Linked DNA regions of Homo sapiens. The protein of the gene in region 1 interacts with the protein of each later gene in a pairwise test. Each region holds a gene or a part of one and is shown on either strand. Other genes may lie near its edges. The genes, in order: RNF144B and UBE2U.

Region 1 (7,170 bases):
TTGGGTTCTCTTTTTTTAACCCTTTCTTTTCCTTCCCCTTTCCCTTTCTTAGATAAATAACACTGACTGAGTTCCTAATGTGTATCAGGCCAGGACCATGGTGTACAGCTGAGCAGGTTGTGCAGTACACAATTCCAGGAGCTGCCAGTCACTGCCTCCACCCCAACCACCACCCTGGCCCATCAAGATTTGTATCGTGCAGGCATCTCCGTGTATCAGGCACTTTGGTAGCTACTTAAAAAAACCACTTTTACCCTCACAACAGCCTATGAGATGAATGTCATCATTCTTATTTTATAGATGAGAAAACTGAGTTTCGGGTATATTAAATAACTTCATTAAGGTTACATAATAATGAGTGGGTAGTGGAGTTTGCCAAGGTCCAAATCCTCTGCTTCCCTCTATAGCATGTGGGTTGTCTTAGCTTTTGGTAATCTCATCTATGGCCACCACCTAAATGATGGCAATTCCCAAATGACTCTCCACCCTAGATCTCTCTCTGTTGATAGCCTACTGGTCAGTTTTTCCAGTATGCCCCAGAGGCACTTCTGATTCTATAGATCTTAATTTGAATTATCATGGTTTCCTTACCATCACTTCTCTTTTATTCCCCCTCTTAGTGGTGCCAGCAGTTGGGGCTATTCTTTTTCTCTTATCCCCCTGCATCTGATATAGTTTTGATGTGTGTCCCTGCCCAAATCTCATATTGAAATGTAATCCTCATTGTTGGAGGTGGGGCCTGGTAGGAGGTGATTGCATCGTGGGGGCAAATTTCTCACGAATGGTTTAGCACCATCTCCCTAGGTACTGTCCTGGGGATAGTGAGTTCTTGTGAGAGCTGGTCGTTTAAAGGTGTGTAGCACCGCCTCCCTCCCCCCTCCCCCCGAAACGCTCTCTTGCACCTACTTTGACCATGTGACAGGCCTCTCCAGAGGGCCAAACAGATGCCAGCATCATGCTTAAAGCCTATAAAGCCTGCAGTACTGTGAGCCAATTAAATCTCTTTTCTTTATAAGTTACCCAGTTTCAGGTATTTCTTTATAGCAATGTGAGAATGGACTAATATAACATCCAATCAGATACCAAGTTCCATCACTTCTGTTTCTGAAATCTCTCTCCATTGGTTCCCTTCCTTTGCATGGCAGTTGTCACTGCATTAGCTCAGACCCTCATTCATTTATTCTGGATGTATCAGCTCTGTCTGAATTATGAAAAATTTCACCTAGAGTCTCATGTCTAACCCTTTGTTTTAGCTGTTTGCTCAGCCTGGTTTACCCTTCTCTACCACACCTATTGGGCTACTTGAAGACATAGATTTAAATCACTGATATGGTTTGGATCTGTGTCCCCAGCCAAATCTCGTGGTCGAATTGTAATCCCCGATGTTGGAGGTGGGGCCTGGTGGGAGGTAATTGGACCATAGGGACAGAGTTCTCATAAATGGTTTAGCACTATCTCCTGGTGCTGTTTTTTGTGACAATAAGTTCTTGAGAGACCTAGTTGTTTAAACATGTGTGGCATTTCCCTGCCCCACCCCGCCTTGCTTCTGTTCCAGTCACGTAAGACATGCGTGCCTGCTTCCCCTTCACCTTCTACCATGATTGTAACCTCCCTGAGGGCTCCCCAGCCATGCTTCCTGTGCAGCTGCAGAACCATGAGCCAATTGAACTTCTTTTCTTTATAAATTACCCAGTTTCAGTTATTTCTTTATAGCAATGTGAGAACAGATTAATATAATCACCTTCTCAGAGAAGACTTGATTCTTTTCATCAACTCCTTTCCTTTAAATTCTTCTTCTCTGTGCTCCCAATAGCACATCATGCTTAAGTCTATCATATCACACATTATGTATCACTCACACATTGGGTACAACTATCAGTACCCTGATAATTGATTTGCTTGTCTTACTCCTTCCCTGGATTGAGAGGTCTTTGAGGACAGGGAGACCATGTCTAATATCATTATCTTAATACAACCTAGCAGATTGTCTGGGAGGAAATCAATAAATGCTCCAGAGAATGAATATCCATTCACACTGTAGACTCCTTAGGAAGATCTGAGAGAGTTTGTTCACATAATATTATAGCATTCAACGTGTTTATTTAGTCTTATTAAATTTTGACTGCAATTTAAAAAAAATTTGCATAGTTGCATGGTTGAAAATAATCAGTGGTGATGTTACTCAGTTGTGCAAAATATTTGGGATAATAGGCAGCACTATTCGTGCTTATGTTCTCATTCATATTGGCAGCAGCTTCTTCCCTTATCCTGTTAACAAGAGATTATAATTTATGAATGGTAATTTGAAAAGTGGACTCTGTGTTGAACTTTGGTTTAAGGCTCAGGAGATTTGCATCAACACCAATGAATAAACTAACCTCTTAGAGGTTGCTTTTTATCTTTCCTAGTTCCTGTCCACCAAAATGGTCACTATACCAAGAAAATTCCTTGAAATAGATTATCTCAGAACCTAAGCCATTGCTAAATCTGAAGGTTGGACTTCCTTTGGGATGGTTTTCATTTACATTCACCTTCCTCATGTAACTCAGATTTAGGTCTCATTCTAGCTTGGCCTGTGTCTGGTTTGGGCCAATCTCTTAAATCTTCCTGGACATCAGTTTCCTTATTTTTTTTTTTTTTTTGAGACAGAGTTTCGCTCTTGTTACCCAGGCTGGAGTGCAATGGCGCAATCTCGGCTCACTGCAGCCTCTGCCTCCCAGGTTCAAGCGATTCACCTGCCTCAGCCTCTCGAGTAGCTGAGATTATAGGCACCCACCACCACGCCCAGCTAATTTTTTGTATTTTTAGTAGAGACGGGGTTTCACCATGTTGGCCAGGCTGGTCTTGAACTCCTGACCCCAGATGATCTGCCCGCCTTGGCCTCTCAAAGTGTTGGGATTACAGATGTGAGCCACCGCACCCAGCCCAGTTTCCTTATTTTTAAAATCAGGTTATTTGCTAAAATAGCTAGGAAGACTTTTCAAGCTCAAATATCCTACCGTGGGTTCTTTTATCATCTTATTGCCCCTGTCCTTTTTCTCTTCCTCCCTGACTGGTGAGCTGGTCCTCCTACCTGCCCTAGCATGGCACATGTAGATACACTGTGTTATTCAGCACTTTGCTTTGACCTAGAGGTTTTCTTCAACTTGGAGGGCTGAGAAGCAATGTTTGCTTGTGTCGTTTGGAATGGTGCCTGTTGGCGTGCACAGATCCTTTCCACAAAGGGCCTGTGAGTCCCTTCCTTTTAGGAAGCACATTCCTGACAGTGGTTGCAAAAGTAGAGAGGGATTGCAGAGTGAACACAGATTCTTGTGTCAGAGCGACATTCCTAAATGGCAATGTTCAGCAGACTTAGGTGATTGTGATCTATGGGGGATATGGGGAATGAGTAGGTATGCGATTCATTATGAATGTCACACAAATGAAGTGTCCAAGGGTTTGGAGCAAGGAAGCACTTCATAATACCTCACAGCTTCTGGATTATTTTGTTACATTTTTGTTTAATTGAGGGTACAACCAGTTAAGTTACAAAGCACTTCAAGTGAAATCATTGTTTCATCAAGAAGTGTCTGTATTTTATGAGGTAAACTAAGATTATTCCCGATTTGATTCACAGGTATTCTAATTTCATCATTAGATGCAAAAGGACAAGTGAGGTACAAGCTGTTTTTTGATGAGATGTGCATGGGAAGTGTTTCTATAAAACAGTTGTCTGCCACGTGGGAAGGCAGGTCTGGGCTGTTAGAAGTAGAAGAAAGAGATTTAAAGAGCTGGGAAGGAGGGAGAAAATAAAGAAAGGTGGCCTGTGAGGATATGTACAGACAGAGAGGTAGCAGGCGCTTAAGGCCAAGAGGTGAGCTGTCCCTGTCTGGGCAGAAGAAGTGCGCTAGGGGCAGCTGCCTGCACCCCCTGCTCTGAATTCCTGCAACAGCGGTCCCAGGAGAACAAGAGACAGGTCCTGACAAGCAGTAGAGTCGGTGCAGCGCGCCCGGGTTCGGATAGGGTTAAGGCCAACACCTGCAGCTGAAGTACGACCCACATGGGAAGTAGGAAGTGCGGCGCCTGAGCTTCCTGTATAAATAAACGCGCTGCTACCGCTGCTGGCGAGCTGTGCCCCACGCTCCCGCTGCAACAGTCCCGGGCATCGCAGCTGCCAGTCAAGGCTAGGAGGCGGTCGGGGACTCCGCCTCCTCCCGACCCGTAGGTCTGGGAGCGCAAGTCCTGTTGCAGTCTTGCAAAGTGTAAAGCTGTCAGCCGCAGAGCACGGAGGAAAGACGGAGAGAATGGAAGAGCTCCTGTCCGGTGTGCCAGCAGCCCGGACTGGCGGTGAGCGCGAGGGAGGCTACTGAGAAGCCCGGCGACGGAGGAACGCAGGTCTGCTGCCAGGTAGGTTTAGCGAGCTTTTTAAAGGCTACAGGCGTTGCAAGACCGGAATGGTGTTGCTGGACTAAGGAAAAAGGACAGGAAACTCACTGTGACACCACAATTTTTCGATTTTCTGTCTCTAGTGCTCAAACCATACAGAACTGAATTCATTCTGAATGCCTTAAACACCTGTTAACTTAGAAGAAAAATGCCTTTGTTAAAGGAAAGTAGTTTCATTTCTAATAAAACAGTTTCTATAATAGAATGTATTGTAGAATCCGAGATTAGACCAGACCTCTCCCTAGGTCTTAAGGGGAGACCAAAAGTTGGCATAATCTCGGATTATGCATTATAGTGCTTATTTTATCAGGTAATTGCTAATGAAACAGTGAAACTCTGATACTACGAGAGCCATTCTCAAATTTAAGTTAAAATCGAACTGATTGTCGTTTGTGCAGGGAAAAGGTAGGTATCTTTTGCTTATTCTTTCTAAAACACCTTTTGTTTTTCTCATGAGTTTCAAGGATCCTGCTGTAAGTCTACTCCTCATGCATATACACTATTCACATAAAGATTTCCCAGAAATTAATTCCCTTCTCTGGGAAATGTTCTTTTTTCATGTTCTCATAACAGACTGTCAGTTTCATATTGCTTTCTGCCACATGTATCTTATCAAAACATTAGCTCTGAGGTTCTTAACAGGACTATCTCTGCTCTTCCGATTTGGCATTTCTGGACGTTTATTTGAACATTGAGAGGTATAAATTAAATGGCAATGTATCTAACATTTCTGAGGAAGCAGATTAGGGGGTGTCTGTGCCCAGAAGCAAAATAAATGAACTTTGGGATGACTCAGTTTTTAGGGTGTGGGTAAGAGGCAAAAGGAACCTAGCCAGTCCTAACTGAGTTGCTGGCTAATTAGAGTATCTGTCTGCCGCAGCTTTCACTGAAATGAGCCTCTTGGTCCCTTTCACATCAAATCCCTCTGTGAGTCCCTCCTTCTCCTTAGTTTATCTTTCCTTCACAACCTGGGTCCTTTTCATGGACAGCAGTGCCTTAAATACTTCTAAAACTATCCTGAGGGGGAGAAAAACCTATAGCAGATCCACAAAGCCACTTGTAGATAATTGTATTATGAAATCCAAGGTCATGGTTTCACACAACTCCTGCTCTGCCCTTGCACACCTTTGACTGGCATTTTTTTTTTTATTTTTGTCGTGGGCATAAACTTAGAAAAGTGGGAAAGGGAAAAACCTCAGTTTCAAAAGTAGTCTCTGACTAATTAATTATCTTGATTAAAAAAAGGTAAACATATATAGTGAACGTGAAAAAGATGTTGAGTAGTAGAATTGGGTTGCTTGGCTTTTTATTTAAAACAAACAAAACTCAACCAAAAAAACCCCCCAAAACCCCAAACAATCACCCTAGATAACTTTCTCCTACACTACTGTGCTGGAAGTCGGGCTTGAGTGTGGTCAAATCCTGCCCATTTACCCAGAGTTTTACAAATATTTACAGTCATCTATGCCAAATATCTTTGTGCTGAGTCCCAAAGAACATTCTCAGCATTCAAAAGGCCCATTCTCATGAATGGTTTCAGTTCATTGGCAATTTAAAGGCATTCAGGCTTCCAAACTAGGTCAGCTTAAGACATGTCTTTTTAAAATAATCAGTTTTTGGGTCTCAGATTATGAACCAGGTTTTTGGAGCCAAACTCTACAGCAGAGAGAAGAGTATGCTCTCTCTGGAAAGAAAAAGCTTATTTTATCTACCTGGTATGACCATTTAACTTCCTGAAAAACGTCTTTCTCCTCAGTAGTATGAATATTTTTCATCTGAGGAGGTGCACTTAAAATTTCCTTCTTGAAAAGTCATTTCAATATTTTAGACGTTTAGAAACATTTATATGTATGTCAGAATCCTTTCTCCGAAGTGTTTCTGCTAATCCTGGCTTCTTTGTTTCCCCTGGCCTTGACTTTATGACATTACTTTCTTGGAGAGTGAAGTTTTTAGTGTTTGAAATCTCCAGTTTGAGATAGAGGTCAGGAATCATGCTGAACCCAGATGTTACTGAAGGAACAAAGTCTGAGCAGTTTTGGGACTAAGCCTACTTTGTACAACTGATTATTTTGGATGTGGGAAAAGGGCCAAGCTGCCAGACAAGTCATGCTTTTCACTTGGACTTTGGGGAATAGGTATCTGTAGCCATTGCTCCTAAGTACTGAAACATTTCTTTCAGGGGTGCCTACCTTAATTTATAGAAGCTCCTTACCTGAAACAAATGGTCAATATTTTCAGCTTGTGAATTTCTGGAAGTGAATACAGATGAGAACCAGGCCTTTAATATTTTCTCTCCTCCAAGTACAATCAGAAAAGTTATCCACTCTACTACTGAGTGACTGATTTGCTAGGTGCTAGGTTAGATGCTGGGATATAAAGATGGCTAAGATGTGGTCTCTGTCCGGAAGAAATTCTCATAAGGTCAGAAGTGACTTGGGTCTAGAGTGGTAGTTCTGAATTCACATTGCTTTGCCAGATTATAAAAAGTACTTCGATGTTTGTCACCTCGATCATCTTAATTTTCTTGGTAGTGTTACCTTGACCATTTGACCATTAAGAGGTATATGACACCTAAGTTAATTTATGTAAATATTTTAATTCATAATTTTTACCTTTAGGTGTATGTGGGAGGTCTTGGACTAAAGTTTTAGTTTTATTAACTTTGGCATTTGCTATTTACCCAGTCGGTGAGTACTTTGGAACCTAATGCATCATACCATAGTTGTTATTAAAAAATGGATAACT
Region 2 (7,303 bases), on another chromosome or scaffold:
TTTACTAAAGTGTCATGTTTATTGATTAACTGTAACCTGATTAACACTGGAGTTTCTCCCTATGGTTTAGTCTTTCCACAGTTTTATTTTTAAGTAAATTGATTCATAGAGTGCACCGACTCCTCTGGATAGTATAACAGACACTTCACAATCTATTATAATCATACGTTTTCAGTCTCTTTCCCACTAGTCCTTTCCATCTACTACCTTTGTCGCCCTAACATCCACCCCCTCTGTTGTATCTCGTATTGACTGAACTCATGTTCCCAAAATCTGCTACACCCTTTCTTGTCTACAAGTCTTTGCTGTGCTGTTTACTCTGCCCGAATTTCCTTATCCTTCTTCTGAACCTGGCAGATTCTTCAGGACTCAACTCAAATGTGATCTCCTTGGGAAGACATTCCTGACTCCCTCAGGCATAATTAACTAATCCTCTTCCTCTTTAGCATTCTGTTCAAAATCCATAATAATGTATATTTTATTGTAATTATCAGCTGATGTGTTTGTCTCCCCTACCTCACTCAAGGAATCTATCTTATTAATCCATAATTGAAAGAAAACATGAGCATTAAAGTTTATAGTGGCTTAGTGTTCTTGAGATTTTTTGATTTATGAAAATTTGGGGGAAAATCATAAAGGAAAAAATGAGAAGTAACTGTGGGGTTTTGAAGCCAATAGGAATTTTGATAGTTATTCCCTGATCTCACGGAAGGCAGACGATATTCTCTCAATTGATATGCTCTATTGTGTCTGCTTCTTAAAAATGTAATAAAATTAAGATTTGGCATAAAGAAAAATACCCCAAATTTCCATCTATGTTGACACATGGCAAAAAAGTCATAAATAAAAAAAATGGGAATATTTTTAGAATTTTAGACAACTGGTATAATGCAAACTTATGCATATGAAGAAGAATTTCAGGAAATTTATATAATGCGACCTTATCCTACATAAAAAGAGGATGGGCTAATAATGGTATAAAGACTTTTTTAAAAAATAGATTGGTTTTGAAAATACAAACCCTGCCAAACTGAATTCTGTAGACCTTCAATTTCAACTTCCCATTCCATCATATCTTCACTTACAGGCTTAGCAGTGATACCCTTGAAGTTAAAAACAAAATTAAATCAGAAAAAACTTATTAAGTATTTATTGAAGTTTTGAAAATCATATACCAGGTCACACTGAATTCTAAAAACTCTAAATTTTCTTTCCTTGATAAGTTTATTTATTTGCTGCTCTGGGGAAGTGTTACATGTCTTATTTCACGGAAGTTAATATAGATCCCAGAAAACATATGCAATAGTAATTAAAAATAAATCATAAGTGTGGAAATCACAAGTGGGACTAGAGAGTCAAGATTAGAATGTGTGGCTTATATACTGTTTGTGTAAATCAATAACCAATTTAATATTCAAATTTTAAAAGAAAGAAATAGTTGGAAAGTGCATGTTTCTTCAAAACATTTTAGAGCTATATGAATGCTATATGAAAGGCATGAAGTGGGAACATTTTCATTAAGAAAAAATCCAAAATTACACTTGTATATAAAAGCAAAGTTTTCCTATACTTGAGGAGTTGTTCCAATGGAGGGACAAGAATGTATTTCATAGAAAACCTTATGAATTACGTTAAGTAACACACTTACAAACACATAAAAACACTTCTGAGCATCCACATAGTTATTAAGTATGTTAGTGCTTGTCTGGGTGAGCCCTGTCTCTCTATTATCTATATTTACATATTCCTTCATTGGATTCTCTTTCAACAGAGAACTACAGAGCTCAGGATGAGCAGAAACAATATCAAATGTTAGGTCCATGCCCCAGGAATGTTCGCTGTTGGACTCCATAATTGTTCCTAACATCTCCAGTGAATGCAGTACTTTTATAGCAGAGGTAAAAAATGAACAATGCCACTGAACTACACCTGAAGCAACTGTGGGAAGCACTCTATACCTTTCATGGACAGCTTTCTTTCTGTTCTTTCTCTTAAGCACTCCCTCTTCGCCCCCTCTTCCATTTTTCATTTTCCGTAAATCAGCCTGTGGCAGCCATGGACATTGATAACCTCATTGGTGGCGTTTAAGCCCAAGGACATTGCTTCTTTTGTGTTAAAACTATAAAGGGAAGGCATTTATGTGTCATGCTGGTAAAAGTACACTAGACAGTAAGCAGTGGAACACAGGAATTAAGAACTAGGGCTTTGAAGTCCAAAAACCCTGTAATGGAATCATGGGGCAAAATCTTTACAGAATATTTCTGAGGCTTAGGTTTTTGGTAAGTAAAATGAAATACTACTTATTGTATAGTATTATAATTAATGAGCATAAGCCTGCACCTACTAGTCACTAACTACATGACAGACCCTGATATTCAGTGCCTAGATCCACATAAATTACTCTGCATAATATGTTCAATATTGTTAAGCATTATTATTTTGAAGTAATAATAATTGTTATTAATATGAAACACATTACTTCAGTGAAATGGATTTATTAAATAACAATACTGTAGTGGCAAATCAGGTTTAACTAAATTACTACTTATAGAATAAAATGGGTTAAACTGCCTCTTAAAAATTATTGCACAATGAAACACATCTCTCCACGTGCCCAGTACTTACCTTATAATTGTTCTCCTTGAGATCACAGAAGTCTCTGTGCAGCAAGAGGTAAGCTCTGCCGTGCATGATAGGCAGCGGAGGGTCTGACACTTGTCCCCAAATGCCTCAGGTTTACTCTGAGGCAGATGTTTGAAGTTATGGGTCACTTTCCCACACTTAGTAAACTGATATAAGTTACTTGCTTTCTAGAACCTCAGAACGGTACCAAGATAAGCGGCTTCTAAAGTTGGGATATAACAATGACTTTTTCTCCTGACTCCTCTAAACGAGAACTTCCCGAAGGAAGACTTGGGCACTTCCTCATCTGCGGCGTTTCACTGCAGTGCCGGCTCACAGCCCAGTCTCAAGACAAACTTGGATGAGTAACGGAGACAAGCCCATGTCGTCGGCGCGTGAGTGGGAGTGAGAGGTGTACGCCTATCAGGGTCCTAGCAGGTTGTCTTCGCTTCACAGGTGCAACCCCGCAGCCACGCACCGGAGGAAGCAAATCGGTTGCCAACCAACAGGCCCCCGTGGGGCCGCCGAGAGACGGAGGCAGGGGGTTGGCCGCTCTCACCCAATCAGCGACAGGGGGCAGGCCTCTTGCTATCTCCACAGCCAATCCTACAACAGTTTCCCCTTTGAAAGGCCAATGAGATTCGTGGTCAAGGCAACACCACGCCTTCTCAGGCCACGAACATGGACTGTACAAAACTAGTGTAGAGGATGGGGTGAGGTCCCAGGACCCAGCATGTAAGTCACAGAAGCCGTCCCACGAAGTCTTTCTTCGAAATTATCCTTCCTTTTTCTTTGACTATCAAAAGATATAGTAAGTGACTGGTAGGTACAGGTCTGCATAACAATATCTTAACTTACATGGCGAGTTACCATTCACAGTAGTGTGCATGCTATTATGTCATCAAACCCTACAATCACCCTGGGAAAGTGCTCCAGGAACAGGGAACTGCTTAAAATTTCTCTGATTCCCATCTCTTCCCGCACAGTTTCGCACCTGCTGTTCCTTCTACCTAGGAGTTTACCACATTCCTTCCACCCCTTCAGCCCTCATTTCCCCTTCACTCACTCATCCTTCAGATTTTAACGACTCTTTAAGGGATCCTTTCTTTTGTGATCCCACAGGACCTTCTATTTGCCTCCTAGTTAACATTTGCCATACGGCATCACAATTGTCTATTGTCTTCACCAGAGTGGGAACTACTGAAAGACACGGTTCCATTGCCAGCGCCAACTACAAAGCCTGGCATCTTTGTTCAGAATACTTTCTTTTTTTACTTTTTACTTACTAATTTTATAGAATCCGGATGTTCATTTAGTCCATTCATTTTACAAATATTTATTAAATACTTTTTTTTTACTTGAAAGATTCAAATGAAGTAAATGTCTTTATGGCTCCAATATACAATAAACAAGTATGCAAAACAAAAATCATGATTTCAGATGGTGATAAACGTTATGTGGACAATAATAAAACAGTACCATGATAGAGATTGGGGTAGGTCATTAAGGATTAGAAATGGTAGTCAGGAAATGCCTCTGTAAGGAATGGGGTTTTGAACTCATACATGAAAGATGAGAAGGAGCCTGCTACATGAAATATTGAGGGCAGAGAGTTCTAGGAAGAGGAAAACAAGATATTTTTGAGTCAGGAAAGAGCTTGTCTTGAAAAGGGAACAAGGGAAGGTCAGGGAGGTTGTGGAGGAGCCTGGGAGGGGTGTGATAAAGATGGGCACTATACAGTAGGAAGTTTGGGCTTTATTTGAATAGCTATGGGAATCCATTTAATGGGTTTAAACAGGAGAGTGTCATGCTCTGATTTATTTATTTATTTATTTATTTATTTATTTATTTTATTGATCATTCTTGGGTGTTTCTCGCAGAGGGGGATTTGGCAGGGTCATAGGACAATAGTGGAGGGAAGGTCAGCAGATAAACAAGTGAACAAAGGTCTCTGGTTTTCCTAGGCAGAGGACCCTGTGGCCTTCCGCAGTGTTTGTGTCCCTGGGTACTTAAGATTAGGGAGTGGTGATGACTCTTAACGAGCATGCTGCCTTCAAGCATCTGTTTAACAAAGCACATCTTGCACCGCCCTTAATCCATTTAACCCTGAGTGGACACAGCACATGTTTCAGAGAGCACAGGGTTGGGGGTAAGGTCACAGATCAACAGGATCCCAAGGCAAAAGAATTTTTCTTAGTACAGAACAAAATGAAAAGTCTCCCATGTCTACTTCTATCCACACAGACCCGGCAACCATCCGATTTCTCAATTTTTTCCCCACCCTTCCCGCCTTTCTATTCCACAAAACCGCCATTGTCATCATGGCCCGTTCTCAATGAGCCGCTGGGCACACCTCCCAGACGGGGTCGTGGCCGGGCAGAGGGGCTCCTCACTTCCCAGTAGGGGCGGCCGGGCAGAAGCGCCCCTCACCTCCCGGACGGGGCGGCTGGCCGGGCAGGGGGCTGACCCCCTCTCCCCCCTCCCGGACGGGGCGGCTGGCCGGGCGGGGGGCTGACCCCCCCACCTCCCTCCCGGACGGGGCGGCTGGCCGGGCAGAGGGGCTCCTCACTTCCCAGTAGGGGCGGCCGGGCAGAGGCGCCCCTCACCTCCCGGACGGGGCAGCTGGCCAGGCGGGGGGCTGACCCCCCCACCTCCCTCCCGGACGGGGCGGCTGTCTGGGCGGGGGGCTGACCCCCCCACCTCCCTCCTGGACGGGGCGACTGGCCGGGCAGAGGGGCTCCTCACTTCCCAGAGGGGGCGGCTGGCCGGGCGGGGGGCTGACCCCCCCCACCTCCCTCCCGGACGGGGTGGCTGCCGGGCGGAGACGCTCCTCACTTCCCAGACGGGGTGGCTGCCGGACGGAGGGGCTCCTCACTTCTCAGACGGGGCGGTTGCCAGGCAGAGGGTTTCCTCACTTCTCAGACGGGGCGGCCGGGCAGAGACGCTCCTCACCTCCCAGACAGGGCGGCGGGGCAGAGGTGCTCCCCACATCTCAGATGATGGGCGGCCGGGCAGAGACGCTCCTCACTTCCTAGATGGGATGGCGGCCGGGAAGAGGCGCTCCTCACTTCCTAGATGGGATGGCGGCGGGGAAAAGGCGCTCCTCGCTTCCTAGATGGGATGGCGGCCGGGCAGAGACGCTCCTCACTTTCCAGACTGGGCAGCCAGGCAGAGGGGCTCCTCACATCCCAGACGATGGGCGGCCAAGCAGAGACGCTCCTCACTTCCCAGACGGGGTGGCGGCCGGGCAGAGGCTGCAATCTCGGCTCTTTGGGAGGCCAAGGCAGGCGGCTGGGAGGTGGTTGTAGCGAGCCGAGATCACGCCACTGCACTCCAGCCTGGGCACCATTGAGCACTGAGTGAACGAGACTCCGTCTGCAATCCCGGCACCTCGGGAGGCCGAGGCTGGCGGATCACTCGCGGTTAGGAGCTGGAGACCAGCCCGGCCAACACAGCGAAACCCCGTCTCCACCAAAAAAATACGAAAACCAGTCAGGCGTGGCGGCGCGCGCCTGCAATCGCAGGCACTCGGCAGGCTGAGGCAGGAGAATCAGGCAGGGAGGTTGCAGTGAGCCGAGATGGCAGCAGTACAGTCCAGCTTTGGCTTGGCATCAGAGGGAGACCGTGGAAGGAGACCGTGGAGAGAGGGAGAGGGAGAGGGAGAGGGAGAGGGAGAGGGAGAGGGAGAGGGAGAGGGAGAGCATGCTCTGATTTATATTTACTTGATTACTCTGGCTGCTCTACGAAGAATGAATTGTTGGGGGGGACCACTTGGAAGGATCCCACAGTAAATTTCACCTCCAGGTATGGTAGCTTAGAAATCACCAACAACATATTCACTGTACTAAAATGCTGACACAATAAAATGCTATTATTCTATGTTTCCTAAAACTAAATAGAAAGGATTTTTTTCCTGTGAAAACATCAACAGGATCTGGGATTGAATATTTTGGCCCTTCTTTCCAGCCCATCAGATTTCAACATGGGCTTGCATAGGATTGGAAATATCAGGTGAAAGTGAGTAAAGGGCTACTTCAGTGAGAAGGGAATAGGCCCAATTTGGAGATCGTAACTAGGTTTGTCCATATCACTGTGGTCCCACAATCCTTTCTCCCACCCTAATGGATTATTGTGATAATGAATTCAGAATCTTTTGTATTTAAAAAATATATTTATTTATTTATCATGGAAAACATGATATTTTGAAATATGTATATGTTATGGAACGGCTAAATTGAGCTAATTAACATAAGCATTACCTCATATGTTGAGGAAACCTAAAATCTATTCTTATCTATTTTCAAAGATACAACATATTTTTATTAACTGTAGTCATCATGTCATACAATAAGAATCCTCCATCTTTTGTTTAGAATTTCATTCTAGGGAAAATTTTGTTAAAGTAAAAGAAAGATAAAAGTAAGTAAGGTAAAAGAAAATTAAGGTAAAGAAAAACATTTTTTGTTGTGAATTTTTAGAAGATGGCATTTATATGATACTTTAGCACAATGAAAATCAAGTTGGAAGATATTCATATGACTCCCCCCACAACAAACCTATATTACTAGCTTTGACCTCTTCTTGGGACTTCTGACTAGTATACCTACTAATTTATATCCAAATGCCTGGTTGTCACCCAGCTGTCTTGTCCCAAACACATTTCAAACTCAAATGTCCAAAA

What was found.
Region 2: the proteins of RNF144B (region 1) and UBE2U interact in a two-hybrid assay, tested with the Homo sapiens proteins (2 studies listed by BioGRID and IntAct).

Annotation. Positions count from the first base shown.
Region 1 is NC_000006.12:18,383,245-18,390,414, forward strand, and holds the start of RNF144B (E3 ubiquitin-protein ligase RNF144B), read left to right. Parts: upstream 1-4,105; 5' UTR 4,106-4,386; intron 4,387-7,170.
Region 2 is NC_000001.11:64,199,439-64,206,741, reverse strand, and holds the start of UBE2U (ubiquitin-conjugating enzyme E2 U), read right to left. Parts: upstream 3,120-7,303; 5' UTR 2,692-3,119; coding exon 2,626-2,691; intron 2,202-2,625; exon of another isoform or gene 1,959-2,201; intron 1,104-1,958; coding exon 1,022-1,103; intron 1-1,021. UniProt on the Homo sapiens protein: Catalyzes the covalent attachment of ubiquitin to other proteins.